Regions from separate parts of the Homo sapiens genome. Here region 1 is linked to region 2. Evidence: fine-mapped expression QTL. Tissue or cell type: blood mononuclear cells. Region 2 holds a variant in brackets; the other region holds the start of a gene. All regions are shown on one strand. Distances are from middle to middle.

The links. PIP is the estimated chance that this variant, and not a neighbour inherited with it, causes the effect.
Region 1: it holds the start of KANK2, and the variant in region 2 is fine-mapped to the expression of KANK2 in blood mononuclear cells (TOPMed, PIP above 0.99).

Annotation. Positions count from the first base shown.
Region 1 is chr19:11,192,890-11,200,889 of GRCh38, forward strand. KANK2 (KN motif and ankyrin repeat domains 2) reads right to left here and starts at 4,656. Exons shown (of 13, transcript NM_001136191.3): 1 at 4,596-4,656; 2 at 2,733-2,931; 3 at 1,586-1,701; 4 at 1-1,153. The coding sequence starts at 1,622. It overlaps DOCK6 (dedicator of cytokinesis 6), which reads right to left. Exons shown (of 48, transcript NM_020812.4): 46 at 7,827-7,933; 47 at 7,419-7,580; 48 at 6,406-6,650. The coding sequence ends at 6,608. RefSeq lists a silencer at 4,520-5,139.
Region 2 is chr19:11,223,849-11,231,848 of GRCh38, forward strand. DOCK6 (dedicator of cytokinesis 6) reads right to left here. Exons shown (of 48, transcript NM_020812.4): 23 at 5,092-5,187; 24 at 3,489-3,629. Among named protein-coding and RNA genes, the nearest start is that of ANGPTL8, 12 kb to the right of the region's middle. The variant G/A (reference allele first, on the strand shown) is at 4,996.

The sequences.
Region 1 (8,000 bases), 31 kb before region 2:
CTGGTAGCTGCAGCGGGCACTGGGCACATTGTCTCCACCACCTCCTGGCTGCGGAACACAGGTGGGCTCTCAGGCCTACCAGGCATTGCCAGGGCCCTCAGCCCTGTGCCGTAAGGCTCCAGGCTCTGGGCCCGCTGTGCGGGGGCGCCAGCGGCTGTGCTGGCCACCACCTCCACCTCCCGTGGCCCTTCTACCACCCGGACTGTATCCACGCGGACCGGGCTGTCCGGCGGTGGCCAGGCCTGGGGCTGGGGGTCAGCCTGCCGGGCCTGAGCTGCCTGCAGCTCCTGCAGCGCCTTCTTGAGCTGGGTCTCCAGCACAGCGACCTTGGCGGCGAGGGCAGCCTCCCCATCAGGCATGCCCAAGTCCCGTTCTCGAACCCAGGTGCCCACACTCCGGGTCTCCAGTGCCACTGGGTCCTCTGGGGGATCGGGGAGGTCCAGGCAGAGCTCGCTGCGACCCCGGCCCGCTGTGGGGTGGCCCAGGAACTTCTGGCTCTTAAGTTGTACTGTGAGCTGCCGCTTTTCCTCCTGGAGCACCGAGAGCTTCACCTGGAGCACAGGGATCAGCTTCACCTGCTCCTCCAGCTGCCGCAGCTTCCGCAGGGCACCCGCCATCTGCTCCCGCACGTGGGCCAGGTGCCCGGCACTGGGAGGCACCGGTGTGGACAGTCCTGAACTCCGTGGTGTCGGGGGTGGCAACCCCACGCCCACCAGGGAGGCTGTCGAGCCGGCCGCACTGGGGGTCAGGGAGCCCAGGCCGGTGGGTGTGGCCGCCTGGTCCTCGAGACGGCGACGGGCATCCAGCAGCGTGCGCTCCACCCGCGGATTGAAGCCACCGCGGGTCTCCAGAGCACCATACTGAGGGTAGAAGCCACGGCCGCAGTAGGAATAGGCTGAGTGGCGGCTGTCCCCACTGGCATTGGAGCACAGCGACTCAGTGGACGTCCACCAGGAGCCAGGGCCACGGGGCAGCGAGCTCAGGCGGGGGCGGCGCTGCACTGCCACGCGTCGCAGCGTGTGGCCCTTCTCGATGTCATCCACGTACTTGAGGAAGTCCAGGTCCAGGCGGTAGCCATAGGGGGTCTCCACGGAGTAGGGTGGATCGGGGTCCTTGGCAGGGAAGGCAGGTGGGGAGGCTGGGCCAGGGGTCCCTGGGGATGGGAGAAACACCAGGACCTTTGAATCCTCTTGTCCCCATTCTCAGGGTGAAGACTGATGCCTGGGGAGAGTTGGGGTTTATTTGCCGAAGAGATGGGAGCCCACCTGGTACTCAACCGCGTCTGCTCTCAGACCCTCCAGAGCAGGGCTATGCCTCCCCTTCAGACTCCCGGCGCTAGGCTATGTCGCCTCTCAAATCCCCCAGGACAGGGCTCTATCCCTCGGCTTAGACTACCCCCTTTTTCCGGTAAGACTCTGCCTCCCCCTTCAGACCCTCCCAGGGCAGGACTCTGCCTCCTCCCTCAGACCTCTAATTGTTGGGCTGTGTCCCACCCTCAAAGTCCCCAGGGCAAGGTCCCCAGCCCCCTCAGGCCTCCAGAACTGAAGCTCCCCGGGGCAGGGCCCTCTTCCCTGAGTCCCCTGACCTGGGAAGGGAGCAGGCACGTGCAGGACCTGGGCCATCTTCTTTTCTACAGATGCTCCTTGGAAGTCACTTGAGGGACTGCGAGTCAGACTGCCTGCAGCACCGGCTGAGGCTTACCTGGGGAAAGAGAACCACGGCGCCGGGAGTTAGGAGTCTGTAGGGGGAGGGGAGGAGATGAGGCCAGCCCCCTCCACAGCTGGTTCACCCAGCCCCCCAACCCAGGTCTGGGACCCACTCATAGACGCACACCCAGCCTGGCTGCGGAAGGGCCCCCCCCGACCCCCTCCCCCCCGCAGGTCTGGAACAAAGAAACCAAACCTCACTGCCTGCTTGCACATCTGTCCAGGCCCTGGACAGGCTCCAGCTGTTCCCATAGCCCAGCCTCCACATAGCCCTGGGGCTGGGGGGCCCCAAGCCCAACAGGCCCCACCCTTCCTGCACCCCCTCCCCTCAGCCCAGGCCCGGAGCTGGCCACACGGAAGGATGGGGGTTGAGGCGCTAAGGGGTTGGGGAAGAAGGGAACCTCGTCTTCCTGCAAGGATCTGAGGAGACAGAGACGCAGGGGGACAAAGAGAGGCAAAGCATGGCGAAGGGGACCCCCAGTGACCCCAAAGCTGAGAGCTGGGTCAGGCCTGGACTGGGTCGGGGGGAAGGGGTAGGGAAAGTTGGGGAGGCAGCTAGGAGTGAAGCCTTTCCCCTTTATGGAAACAATTTTCTCTAAAAATAAACAGTTTCACTGCCGGGCTACACAGAACTTCCTGCCCGCCTAGGATGCGTCCGGGCCCAGGGGCGCAGTAGGGATAGAGGGCCGGGTGGAGGCCCAGGAAGTCCTGGGGGTGGAGGGGAGGAAGTAAGAGGGGGCGCCTGGAGGCTGCAAAAGGGAGGGACAGTCAGAGCCTCTCACTAAACCCCCCTCAGCCTTGGAGGCCGGCCAGGGCTCTTTTGTCCCCAATATAACCCATCTGAACTTGGCTGGTCCTTTCTGTTATCTGACCTCCAGCCATCATGCTGCAGAGGCCCCAGCCCATCCCACCATCAGAGTAAATCCTTTCTGGCCTTTGAGTGCTGGGGCCGGCAGGTACCTTGGGAGGATGGGCCAGGTAGGGCACCTGCTGGGCATGAAGGCAGGGCTGGGGCTCCAGGGGCACCTGAGCTTGTCCTTGTTCTCCCGTCCTGTCTTGCTTTGTCTCTCTCCAAGTCTCTCTGTGTCTCTCCACGTCTCTCTGTGTCTCTCCACGTCTCTGTCTCTCTGCGTCTCTCTCCACGTCTCTGTCCTTCTGCGTCTCTCTCCGTGTCTCTCTCCCTGTCTTTCCACGTCTCTGTCTTCGCTTCTCTGTCTTTCAACACCTGGAACACATGGTCACCAATTGCAGGAAATTCCGTTTTCCATTTGCCTGGAGGCTCACCCCTGAGCAACAGAAAGTTGATTGAAAATATTTTCTGGCCACCAAAGAGAGATGGAGAAGCAGGGAGCAAGCGGGATTGGAGCAGGATTGGAATAGCCGAGCGGGGTGGGCTGGGGGTGGGGGAAGTGAGGGTGCTGCTGGGTAAATAGTATAGTAACAGTAATACTAACATCAACTCTTTTTTTTTTTTTTTTCTGAGACGGAGTTTTGCTCTTGTCGCCCAGGCTGGAGTGCAATGGCGCGATCTCAGCTCACGGCAACCTCTGCCTCCCAGGTTCAAGCGATTCTCCTGCCTCAGCCTCCTGAGTAGCTGGGATTACAGGCACCTGCCACCACGCCTAGCTAATTCTGTATTTTTAGTAGAGATGGTGTTTCTCCATGTTGGTCAGGCTGGTCTCGAACTCCTGACCTCAGGTGATCCGCCCGCCTTGGCCTCCCAAAGTGCTGGGATTACAGGCATGAGCCACTGCACCCAGCCTAACATCAACTCTTTTAATTGTCATGACAATTCTATGAGATGGGCACTTATCGCCCCGTTTCACAGACAGGGGATGCAGAGGGTACAGAAAGGTACAGTGGCTTCCTCGGGGTCACTGGGGCCATGGGGAAGTGGCTGGGCCTGAACATGAACCTAAGCCTGGTGGATCCCCCCACTGCCCACCAAGCCACCACCCTCAGACTCCACATCAGATATCTCTACCCGTTTCCCAGATACGGAGACTGAGGTCTGAGGGTACTCAGTCATCTCACCGCCCTCGATGAGGACCAGCACGTCCCGAGTAAGGGGAAGAGAAAGGAGACGAGGGGGTGTGGTGGGGGAGATGGATGTCTGTGGCTGAGACCCTTCTCTCGCCATGGGACCCCTGGGGAATGGGGAAGGGGTGACAGGATAAGACAGAGATGGAGAGACTGGAGCCTATAAGAGGGGACAGGTAGGGAGCGCAGGGAAGGGGCGCGGGTCTCCCCAACCCACCACCCAAGACCGGCCTGCACATCGCGGAGGTCGGTGGTGGTGGTGGGGGGGGGTCTTCCCGCCCCAAACTCGGGGTGGGGGGAGGCGAGAAGGACCCCGCCCCGTGCAGAGAGGGGGCGGGGCCTGTGGGATCCCGGGCTAATGGCAAACAGCTGCCGCTCCCCACGCCGGCCCAGCCGCCAAGCCCAGGCCCAGCCCGGCCGGACGCCCGGCCGCCTTCCCGCCGTCTGGGGCATGGCCGCGGAGGAGGGCGAGGGGGGACAGTGCGGGGAGAGGGCAGAGCCGGGGAGGAACAGAGGCAGAAAGTGGGACAGAGACAGGGGAGAGCGGGCAGAGGGGAGCCAAGACAGGAGAAACGGGCAGGGCACGAGGAATCGATGGGGGGTACTGGGAGGAATCGATGGGGGTATGGGGTCAAAGACGAGGAGGGGGCAGGGACGCGGGGACAGACACTCCAAGTCTGGAAAGTTTGGGCACAGAAGGTGGAGTTGGAGGCAGCGGCTCGTTGAGACCAGCGAGGTCGTGTCCCAGGGTTGGAGGCGGGGGGTAGGGTAGTAGGTGTGTGTGGAGGGGGTGCACACTCGATCCCCGAACCAGACTTGAACCCCTACCCAGCCCCGGGTCCCACTCGCCTTGCGCGCTCCGGCCGCTGCCTTCCCTGGGTCCCGCCGCCCGAGCGTCTTCGCGCGCGCCGCAGCCTGGGCGCCCGGCCCTCGGAGGTGGCTCCGCCCGCACCACGCCCCCTCCGGCTGGTCCCGCCCCCCCAGCCGGCACCGCCCCCTCCAGCCGCCCGGGCGCCCCGGCCGCGGTGGGGGGTGGGGATGGAGAGACGCTGGTTGGAGACTGGATCTCACCTGGACAGCAGGTGTGTGTGCGCGCCGGGGTGTCCGGCCTCGTCCTTCCTTCCTCCCTAAGTCCCCGAGGCAGGGTCCTCCCACTGCCGGCCTCCCCCCCACCGCCTGCTGTCCCTGGGCCGCTGCGGGGGGCGGAACGGCTCGGCGGCGGGAGGGGGTGGAGCTGGCCGGGGCCCAGCTCGGGGAGGGCGCGCGGGGCGGGCGCGGCAGCGGGAGGTCACCCCTCCCCCAGGCGGCCCAGGGCTGGAAGCGGCCCAGCGCAGTCCTGGCACACGGTGGCGTGACCGCCGCGCGAGAAGGGAGGCTGCAGAGTCCTGGGCGCCGGCGCCAGCCAGACCTGCATTCCCATCCCAGACCCACCAAACTTTTGCTGCTCTGTGCCTCAGTTTATTCATCTGTAAAATGGAGATGATCATGTTAGCTACCTGATAGGAGCGTTGAGAAGATTCACTGACCATTAGGAAGGGGCCTAACCATCAGGAAGGAGGCCCTTCGGGTTAAAAACTCTCATAAATGGAGTGGCCTACTTTTGCAGAGATCTTTCTGGGAGCCCTTTTAGTACACAGCCAGCCACTCAGCAAGGGCTTAATAAATATTATTAAGCCGGCGAGGTGGCTCACACCTGTAATCTCAGTGCTTAGGGAGGCCAAGGCAAGAGGACTGCTTGAACTCAGGAGTTCGAGACCAGCCTGGGCAACATAGCAAGACCCTGTCTATGCAAAAAAATTTTTAAGTGAAAAAAAATTAGGCCAGGCGCAGTGGCTCATGCCTGTAATCGTAGCACTTTGGGAGGCCAAGGTGGGCGGATTATTTGAGCCAAGGAGTTGGAGACCAGCTTTGGCAATATGGTAAGACGCCATCTCTACAAAAAACAAAATACAAAAAACCACCTGGGGCCGAGAAATGGCTCATGCCTGTAATCCCAGCACTTTGGGAGTCCGAGGTGGGTGGATCATCTGAGGTCAGGAGTTCAAGACCAGCCTGGCCAACATGGTGAAACCCCTTCTCTACTAAAAATACAAAAACTATCCTGGCATGGTGGTGCACATCTGTAATCCCAGCTACTCGGGAGGCTGAGGTATGAGAATAACTTGAATCTGGGAGGTGGAGGTTGCCGTGAGCCGAGATTGCACCACTGCACTGCAGCCTGGGTGACAGAGTGAAACTCTGTCTAAAAAAAAAAAAAAGAAAAAGAAAAAAAAGCCAGGCACAGTGGCATGTGCCTATAATCTCTGCTACTCAGGAGGCTTGAGCCCCGGAGTTTGAGGCTGCAGTGAGCTATGACTGTGACACTGCATTCCAGCCTGGGGGACTGAGTGAGAGCGTCTGTTAAAAACAAACAAACAAAAACCAGGTATTGTTATTGCAGGTAAGCATGTGACATTATTTGTGTGTTGCCTTCCCTACTAGAACATCAGCTCCACAAGGGCAGGAATTTTTGCCTGTTGTCACCACGATGTCCCTGGCACCCAGTATGTTCTTGGTGTCCCCATTGATGATGCAGGGATGTGTGGATATGGGGCAGTGGACTGTGAGCATGTGATGAGCATGTGACCCAGCCCCTAGTGACCGCACCACATGGCACAGGTTGCTTATAAAAACCATTTTAAATTAAAAAAGGGAGGAAGCATCAGTGCACACAGATGGGGACACAGGGGCAGAGGGCCCAGCCCCAAGTACAGTGTGGTCACCCCACAGCCCAGTGGGCACCAGGGCAGACTCCCCTCGCAGCACAGACAGCTGAGGCCCGGGTGCTGGTTCCTCTAGGTACAGCTTTGGTCCTTGTGGGCTCAGAGGTCTGCCTTTCGGAAACTTGCTCTGTTCAAGGAGTTCCTGGAAAAAGAATGAGGGTGGGTCAGCATGGCCATGGGGCCCCCAACTCCATAGACCTCCCAGCCCACATCCTCTTCCTCCTCCTCCTCGTCTTCCTCCAAGGATCCTTCTGGGATCTCTCCTGTCCCTGATCTGGCTGTGGGATTCTCCGATTCTCTCTTGCAGTCCACCACGGAAGGTATGAATCATCCCCATTTTACAGATGTAGAAACTGAGGCTCAGAAAGATGAATTCATGTATCTGGGAAATGACTGCTCAGAGCCTGCCCTGCCTTTGTACATCTGGATGACATATTCAGATGCTTATGCAAAATTGAAGCCACCGCAGCCAGGCGTGGTGGTGGCTCATGCTGTAATTCCAGCACTTTAGGAGGGCAAAGCGGATGGATCACCTGAGATCAGGAGTTCGAGACCAGTCTGGCCAACATGGTGAAACCCTGTCTCTACTAAAAATACAAAACATTAGCCAGGCGTGGTGGCAGATGCCTGTAATCCCAGTTACTCAGGAGGCTGAGGCAGGAGACTCGCTTGAATCTGGGAGGCGGAGGTTGCAGTGAGCCAAGACTGTGCCAACTGCACTCCAGCCTGGGCAACAGAGGGAGAGTCTCTCAAAAAAAAAAACAAAAAAAAAACCGGAAACAAAACAAAGTCCAAGCTACCAGCAAACATGTTGCTGTGTATGTGTACAACAGCCCCCATCCTGTACCTGTCCTGGTCTGCCTCTGCATCCCCTCTCTAGTCTCTAGGATGGGGGCACTAGGTCAGGCACCTGAGGCCGGGTGGGGTGGGTGCCATCAGCTGGGGCAGGCGCTGGGTAAGCAGGGGCTGCAGAGCCTCCCGCAGGCGGCAGTAGTTGCGCTCCAGCTCACGGTGGTACTCCTTCTGGTCCGGCCCAATCAGGGCCTTATTTTTCCGCAGCGCATCCTCACATCTGAGGGCCAGAGGGTGGGAGATGCTCAGAGACTCGCACACGGGACTGAAAGCAAGACTAGGGGTGGGGGCACCCATAAGGCGGGACCAGGCCTGCAGAAAGACCCGCAATAGGAGGTCAGGTTGGGAGAGTGGACTTAATGGGAATCGGGCAGATGGGGGAGCCATGCAGAGATCAGATGGGCAGAGAGCAGGCCTATGCAGGTTAGGCAGACACGAGACCCCTCCTGGGGGGTTTTGCGCCTACTTCTTGCAGAAGTCCTTGAAGCAGAGCCGCAATTTGTTGTGATGCCGGAAGAGCTTGGGGTCTTCCGGGATCTCTGCTAAAAACACCTGGGCCACCTCCAGGGGACCCTGTGGGGTGAGAGGGACTGGTGAGCCAGCCTGCATGGCACCTGGAGTCCCCCGTGCGGCTTGCATC
Region 2 (8,000 bases):
ATTGGTCAGGCTGGTCTCGAACTCCTGACCTCAGGTGATCTGCTTCCCTTGGCTTCCCAAAGTGCTGGGATTACAGGCGTGAGATACCGCACCCGGCCTCTCAGCACCATTTAATGTGAGCTTTACTGAGCATCTACTCTGTGCCAATCCCTGTGAATGAGGCAGATGCCATCCCTGCTGCGGGTCCAACTCAATCCAGTGTGTGTGTGTGGGGCGGGGGCAGGGAGACACAAAATAAACAAGAATTTCAGATAGTTCTATGTGCTTCAAAGACAATATTAAATTGGTGCAAAAGTAATTGCAGTTTTGCAATTACTTTCAATGGCAAAAACTGTAATTACTTTTCTTTCTTTCTTTCTTTCTTTCTTTTTTTTTTTTTTGAGACGGAGTCTTGCTCTGTCGCCCAGGCTATAGTGCAATGGCGCGATCTCGGCTCACTGCAACCTCTGCCTCCTGGGTTCAAGCGATTCTCCTGCCTCAGCCTTCTGAGTAGCTGGGATTACAGGTGCGCACCACCACACCTGGCTAACTTCTGTGTTTTTAGTAGAGACAGGGTTTCACCATGTTGGTAAGGCTGGTCTCAAACTCCTGACCTCAGGTGATCCGCCCTCCTCGGCCTCCTAAAGTGTTGGGATTACAGGCGTGAGCCACCATGCCCAGCCTATAATTACTTGTCACCAACCTTAACAGACGGGGGTGACATTTTCAGAGATACTGAAGGATACCAAAGAGCCATGGGGAGAATGGCATCCTGGGTTAAGGGAACAGTCAGTGCAAAGGCCCTGAGGCAGGATGTGCCTAGCAAGTCCGGGGAACAGTGAGGTGGCTGATGTGGCCCTGAGGCCCAGCTGGTATTCGTTCTGCCCTCATACTCTCTTGAGCCACTCTGAGGCCTCACAAGTTAGCCTCAGTGGCCCTCAAATCCCTGCAACCCGGCCAGGCATGGTGGCTCCTGCCTGTAATCCTAGCACTTTAGGAGGCTGAGGTGGGTGGATCACAGGGTCAGGAGTTTGAGATCAGCCTGGCCAATATGGTGAAACCCCATCTCTACTAAAAATACAAAAAATTAGCCAGGGGTGGTGGTGGGCGCCTATAGTCCCAGCTACTTGGGAGGCTGAGCCAGGAGAATCGCTTGAACCCAGGAGGAGGAGGTTGCAGTGAGCTGAGATTGCGCCACTGCACTCCCGCCTGGGCGACAGAATGAGACTCCGTCTCAAAAAAAAAAAAAAATTAGCCGGGCATGGTGGCGCACCCCTGTAGTCCCAGCTACTCAGGAGGCTGAGGCAGGAGAATTGCTTGAACCTGGGAGGCGGAGGTTGCGGTGAGCCGAGATCGTGCCATTGCACTCCAGCCTCGGGGACAGAGCAAGACTCCATCTCAAAAAAAAAAGTGGATTATCACAGGCATTGTTCTTCTCTGGATCTCTTTCTTGGGGTAGTTTCCTCACCATCTGGATCAGCCCCTGGGAATGTCAGTCTTTGGGAAGGCTCCAGTGAGACAAGGCCAGAACCTTTGAGACCAGCTTGGAGGTCACATGTGATTGTGTAAGGGTTGGCCTGGGCCAGAACGCCATTTCAAAAATCTGGAAAGTTCCCAGCAAATCCAGAGGTCCCATTTCTCCTTAGACACCAGGCCATCTCCTGGCATGGGAACATAGGAAGACCCCATCTCTACACACACACACACACACAAAAATAGGTGGGTATGGTAGCACGCACCTGTAGCCCCAGCTACTCTGGAGGCTGAGGTGGGAGGATTGCTTTAGCCCAGGAGTTTGAGGCTACAGTGAGCCATGATCACACCACCACACTCTAGTCTGGACAACAGAGCAAGACCGTGTCTCAAACAAAAACAAATAAAAAAACAAAAACAAAACCACACACAAAAAAACCCCAGTCAATCTGGCCAGGCATGGTTCACGCTTGTAATCCCGGCACTTTGGGAAGCCAAAGTGGGAGAAGCCCTTGAGCTCAGGAGTTGGAGACCAGTCTGGGCAACATAGTGAGACCCTGACTCTACTAAAAAAAAAAAAAAAAAAAAAAAAAATTGCCAAGTATGTTGGCTTGTGCCTCTGGTCACAGCTACTTGGGAGGCTGAGGAGAGAGGATCCCTTGAGCCCAGGAGGTCAAGGCTGCCGTGAACTATGATCGCACCACTGCGCTCCAGCCTGGGCAACACAGCAAGACCCTATCTCCAAACAAAAACAAAAACAGCCAATCTGGACATAGCTGAGCCACATTCCTGCAGGGTTTCTGTTGGCTGGATTGAGTGATGGTCACCCCTGTTAGGTGGGACATCTGCCCTCTGCTCCACCATAAGCCCCACTTTCCCAGCTGAAACTGGTATTGACAGTGAGGGGTCTGGAGCTGGTGGCTCAGATTCAAAAGCCTCATTCTGCCCCTTCTCAGTCGTGTGGTACAAGGTTAAGCTACCACTCATTCGATGCCTCAGTTTCCCCATCAGTAAAATGGAGATAACAATAATACTAACTTCATGGGTTGTTGTGAGAATTTAATGATACGATCCAAGGCCGGGCGCGGTGGCTCACGCCTGTAATCCCAGCACTTTGGGAGGGCAAGGCGGGCAGATCACCTGAGGTTAGGAGTTCCAGACCAGCCAGGCCAACATGGAGAAACACTGTCTCTACTGAAAATACAAAATTAGCTGGGCGTGGTAGTGCATGCCTGTAATCCCAGCTACTTGGGAGGCTGAGGCAGGAGAATCGCTTGAACCTGGGAGGCGGAGGTTGTGGTGAGCCAAGATTGCGCCATCGCACTCCAGCCTGGACAACAAGAGTGAAACTCTGTCTCAGAAAAAAAACAACAACAAAAAAATGATACGATCCACATAAAATGCTTAGATATACAGTAAGTGCTCAATAAATGCTCCATATTATTACTATTATGATTAGTATTGCCTGCCTAGCCCCTGAGGGCATTGGAATTGGTAATCCAGGGCCTGAACAAGTCCACTGTCAGGGTCTCAGAACATCAACATCCATTTATTGAGCACTTGCTGTATACTCTGACTGTGCTAAGGGTTAATGGATCTGCCTTGTCACTTCCCCGCTCCCACCAACCCTCATTTCCTTCCTCATTCACTACAATCTAGCCATCCTTACTGCTCTACTGTTAGCCCAAGCATGGTCTTGCCTCAGGGCCTTTGCACCTGCTATTCCCCCTGCCTGGAATGCTCTTTCCCCAGACATTGCATGGAATGATCCCTTACTTTCTTCAAGTCTCCCCTTAAAAGCTACACAAGGGTAAGGATTTGGGTCTGTTTTGTTTATTGTTATATTGCTACACCCAGCACAGGGCTGTGCACGTTACAGGCACTTAAGAAACAGACAATGAATGAACGGATCCACCCAGCAAAGTGGATTCCTGGTCTTACGGCCAGGAGACACTGGGCAGGATTGGCGCCCCCACCTGGCTGGCTCTATGTCCTCCCTCAGGTTTCTTCCCACATTGAGACCCTGCATCTCTCACCTTGTGGACACGGGTGATGACCTCCAGGCCCACAGAGCCCACCAAGGCAGTGATGTCGTCCAGGAAGCGTCCGGGGAAGCGCAGCTTGCGGGGTGTGTCTAGTCGCTGGCCAAGCAGCAGGTGCAGCGCCATACTCTTCACCTGGGGGTGGGGTGAGAGGGCTGTGGGTGGGATTTGAAGGGCTGTGGGTAGGACTTGAAGGGCTGTGGGTGGGGCTTGAAGGGCTGTGGGTGGGGCTTGAAGGACTGTGGGTGGGGCTTGAAGGGCTGTGGGTGGAGGAGGCTTGACAGGAGGGGCGGGGCTTTATTAGCAATGGAGGTGGGCTGAAGGTAGGTTTGAGCCCTGTAGCTGCAGGTAGAAGCTGGGGCCTGAGGGATGTGGGTGGGGCTTGTGACCTATGGATGGGGCTTAAGAAAGCCGTGGGCAGATCCTGTGAGCATCCCAGGCAAAGTGTAGAGAGTGGGAAGGCTGAGAGGATGTGGGAGGGGCTTATGCGGGTCTCCCCAGGGCAAGTCAGAGGTGGGACAAAGGGTGGGGCTTGAGGCACTGGATTTGAAGGGAGCTTTATTGGAGGCCCAGAGGGGATGCAGCCAGCAGGCCCTGGGAAGGAGGCTTCAAATAACCTATTGAAGAGTTTTAGGGATGTGTCTTACCTTGATCAGAAAGCTTTCCCTCTTTTTTTTTTTTTTTTTTTGAGATGGAGTCTTGCCGTCACCCAGGCTGGTGTGCAGTGGCATAATCTTGACTCACTGCAACCTCTGCCTACTGGGTTCAAGCGATTCTCCTGCCTCAGTCTCCCATGTAGCTGAGATTACAGGCACGCACTACTACGCCCGGCTAACTTTTGTATTTTTAGTAGAGATGGGGTTTCACCATGTTGGCCAGGCTGGTCTCAAACTCCTGACCTCAAGTGATCCACCCGCCTCGGCCTCCCAAAGTGCTGGGATTACAGGCGTGAGCCACTGTGCCTGACCACAGCTTTCTCTCTCTATCCAGGAATATCTCCTGCAGGATGCAGGTCTCCTGTCTAGGTGAGGGTCTCTTAATGGTTTCTCTCCTTAAAGAGTCTCATGGGGAAGGGTGGCTCTCTCTAAAGGTGGTTTCAGGTACAGTCTCTCCAGGGAGACACCACCTTAAGTGCCTCTCACCTCCCTAGGTTGTGGGGGGGGGTCTCTTGGGGCCATTTCTCAAATATCTCAGGTGCAATTTCAGGGGGCTTCTCTCTTTTTTTTTTTTTTTTTGAGACAGAGTCTCGCTCTGTCGCCCAGGCTGGAGTGCAGTGGCACGATCTCGGCTCACTGCAAGCTCCTCCTCCTGGGTGCACGCCATTCTTCTGCCTCAGCCTCCCGAGTATCTGGGACTACAGGCGCCTGCCACCACTCCTGGCTAATTTTTTTTTGTATTTTTAGTAGAGACGGGGTTTCACCGTGTTAGCCAGGATGGTCTCGATCTCCTGACCTCGTGATCCGCCCGCCTCGGCCTCCCAAAGTGTTGGGATTACAGGTGT[G/A]AGCCACTATGCCTGGCCAGGGGGCTTCTCTCTTTAAAAAAGGAAGGGGCTCCACTGGGGGTCTCTTGCCACCAGGCAGGGAGGAGGGGGTCTCACCATGAGCTGGAAGAAGAACCAGGCGTGCTGGAGGATGGCCTCGCGTACGGCACTGCTGCTGACCACCCACTGCAGAGCCAGCTCCTCGTGAAGCAGCTGGGGACAGAGGCAGGGGTCACAGAGTGCGAGGTGCCACCCCTTCCCGTACCCCCTCTGGAGACATGCCAGGGGAAGATGCAGCTGGAGGGCTCGGGGTTAGTGCAGCAGGAGCCAGGCAGGAGGAGGGGGACAAGAGGAGTGGAAGTGCCCTTTCCCTGGGCTCGCCAGACCCCCCTGGACTCTGGATGGGGGAGGAGCACTGGACCCCTTTGCTGGGGACCAGGACAAAAATAGCGTCATCCGCACCTCCCCCCACTACCTTCTGCACAGTGGGTCTCAGCTGGGTGGCTGGTGGGGCCGAGGAGGAACCCTCGAGGTAGGAGGAGGCTCGGCTAGAGTTGCAGTCGATGGCCTATGATGGGATGTGATGGCGAGGAGAAGGTTAGTGTGGATGAGGTGAAGGGGTATGTGGTTGGAGGAAAGACGTGTTCACACAGACAGGGATGGGGAAAAGAGGTAGGTTAGTGTGAATATAGAGAGAGAAATGCTTCCACATGGATGGACCAGGGCCATGGATGCCAATGGGGACAGGCAAGAAAGAGAGATGGGCCGGCGTGGGTTGGGAGGGGAGGCTGGTTGGAATGGCCAGGGTGCTGTGGGAGTAGACGGGGCAGTGGAGGCAGGGACAAATAAAAGAGTCGCTGGAGAGAGCTGGGTGAGTCAAGATCAAGGTGTGTGGGTATGGGAGAAGAACGTGAGGCTGGGCGGGGTGGCTCAATACCTGTTATCCCAGCACTTTGGGAGGCTGGGGCAGGAAGACTGCTCAAACCCAGGAGTTTAAGATCAGCCTGGGCAACATAGTCAGACATTGACTCTACTAAGACAAAAACAAACAAACAAACAAAAATATATATATATGGCTGGGCCTGGTGGCGTGTGCCTGTAGTCCCAGCTGCTCAGGAGGCCAAAGCAGGAGGATTGCTTGACCCTGGGACTTGGAGGTTGCGGTGAGCTGTGATGGTACCACTGCACTCTAGCTTGGGTGACAGAGCAAGACTCCATCTCAAAAAAAAAAAAAAAAAAAAAAGGAGGATGCTGTAATCCTAGCACTTTGGGAGGCCGAGGCAGGTAGATCACGAGGTCAGGAGATCGAGACCATCCTAGTCAACATGGTGAATGGTGAAACCCCGTCTCTACTAAAAATACAAAAATTAGCTGGGCGTGGTGGCAGGCACCTGTAATTCCAGCTACTTGGGAGGCTGAGGCAGGAGAATCGCTTGAACCTGGGAGGCAGAGCCTGCAGTGAGCCGAGATTGCACCATTGCACTCCAGCCTGAGTGATAAGAGCGAGACTCCGTCTCAAAAAAAAAAGAACGTGATGGAGGAGGTGAGAATAACAATGAAAACACAGTACGCCAGTGACCAGTGACAGCAGTGCAACCACAACAGGCAGGAGGAGTGTGGATGGAGTGGGACCGAGAACACACGAAGGCTGGGAATGGGTACATGGTGTGTGGGGTGAAGGCAGAGGAGATGAAATCAGTGTAGACAGCAAGAATGTGTGTGGCCAGAGAAGGTGAGGGTGAGTGTAGACGAGGTGTAGAGTGTGACCGAGTCAGTGAGTCTAGAGGACAGAGAGGAGGATGCAGAGGTGGAGGAGGGTGAGTGTGGACAGAGGAGGTTAAACACAAGATGGGGAAGGAGGAGAAAGACAAGGCAGGAAGATAAGGACAGAGGAGGTGAGATGTTGGTGAGGTGCCAGGAATAGCAGAGAGAGCCCAAGGTTCCAGGCCTGGCCCTGCCCAAGCCTGGCTTGGGCCTCAGTATCCCCATCTGTGAAATGGGTATAGGCAGAGGAGTTCAAGCTCCACTCTCGCTTCCTCCTTCGCTGGTTAGGGGGTGAGGCTGCTCGCAGGAACAGGAGGTCTGATGACAGAGACGACCCAACCCTGGGACCTACTCTGACACTTGAGGGCTCTCTAGCTACCCCAGTCCCAGCCATACCCTGGCAACTCACTGTGCACCGTGAGGGCCTTCCATTGAAAAGGCCCAGCCTCAGTGTCACCCAGATTTCCAGATTCCCAGCAATCCAAGGAAATGACTGCCCAAAGGCCCCCCCTGCTTGTTCTGCTAGGAGTCCCCTGGGCCTGTCATAGGGTACAGGTTACCTTGGTGATGGGCACAGAGCTGGAATAGGCCCTAGGGCCAAGTGTGTAAGGAAGCAAGCCCTGTGGCCTCCTCTCTGTGCGTACAGTCCTCTGACCTTGGTCCCAATATTTGTACATGCCTTTCCCTCTTCCTGAACACCCACACCCACCCACCCTTCCCTAGCTGACTCTATCTTACCCTTCGGGTCCCAGCAAAAGATGTCACTCCCCTGGAGAAGCCCCCAAGACCACCCAGAGGGAAGCTGGTATTCGGTTGCTACTTGCTTCCTTTCCACGCTGTGTGATCATATACTTATGCATTTGTTTGATCCGTGTCTATTTCCCCAACTAGCTGGAAGCTCAGGGTCAAGGCCAGACCAAGAATCTATCATCCCAACAAAATCCCACTGCAGTGCCCTCAGCCCTAACTCAAGCACAGGCTCAGGACTGCTGGGGGAGCACTATATTTTGAGTCCAAACTGCATCCGAAAATTTGGAGTGTTATCTCCATTTTACAAATGAAGAAACTGAGGCTCAGGAAGATGCATCCAATTGCTCAGAGCATGGGGTGAGCTCATAGCAGAGCTAGGACTTGAACCCAGGTCTGTTTGGAGGCAAAGCGTCCCCCTACACCAGGTACCTGGAAAGAGGCAGGGTAAGGGGAGCTCTTTGTCTAAAATGGGATAGGGGAGCCGAGAGGTTCCATTCCAGCCCTTTGAGAGT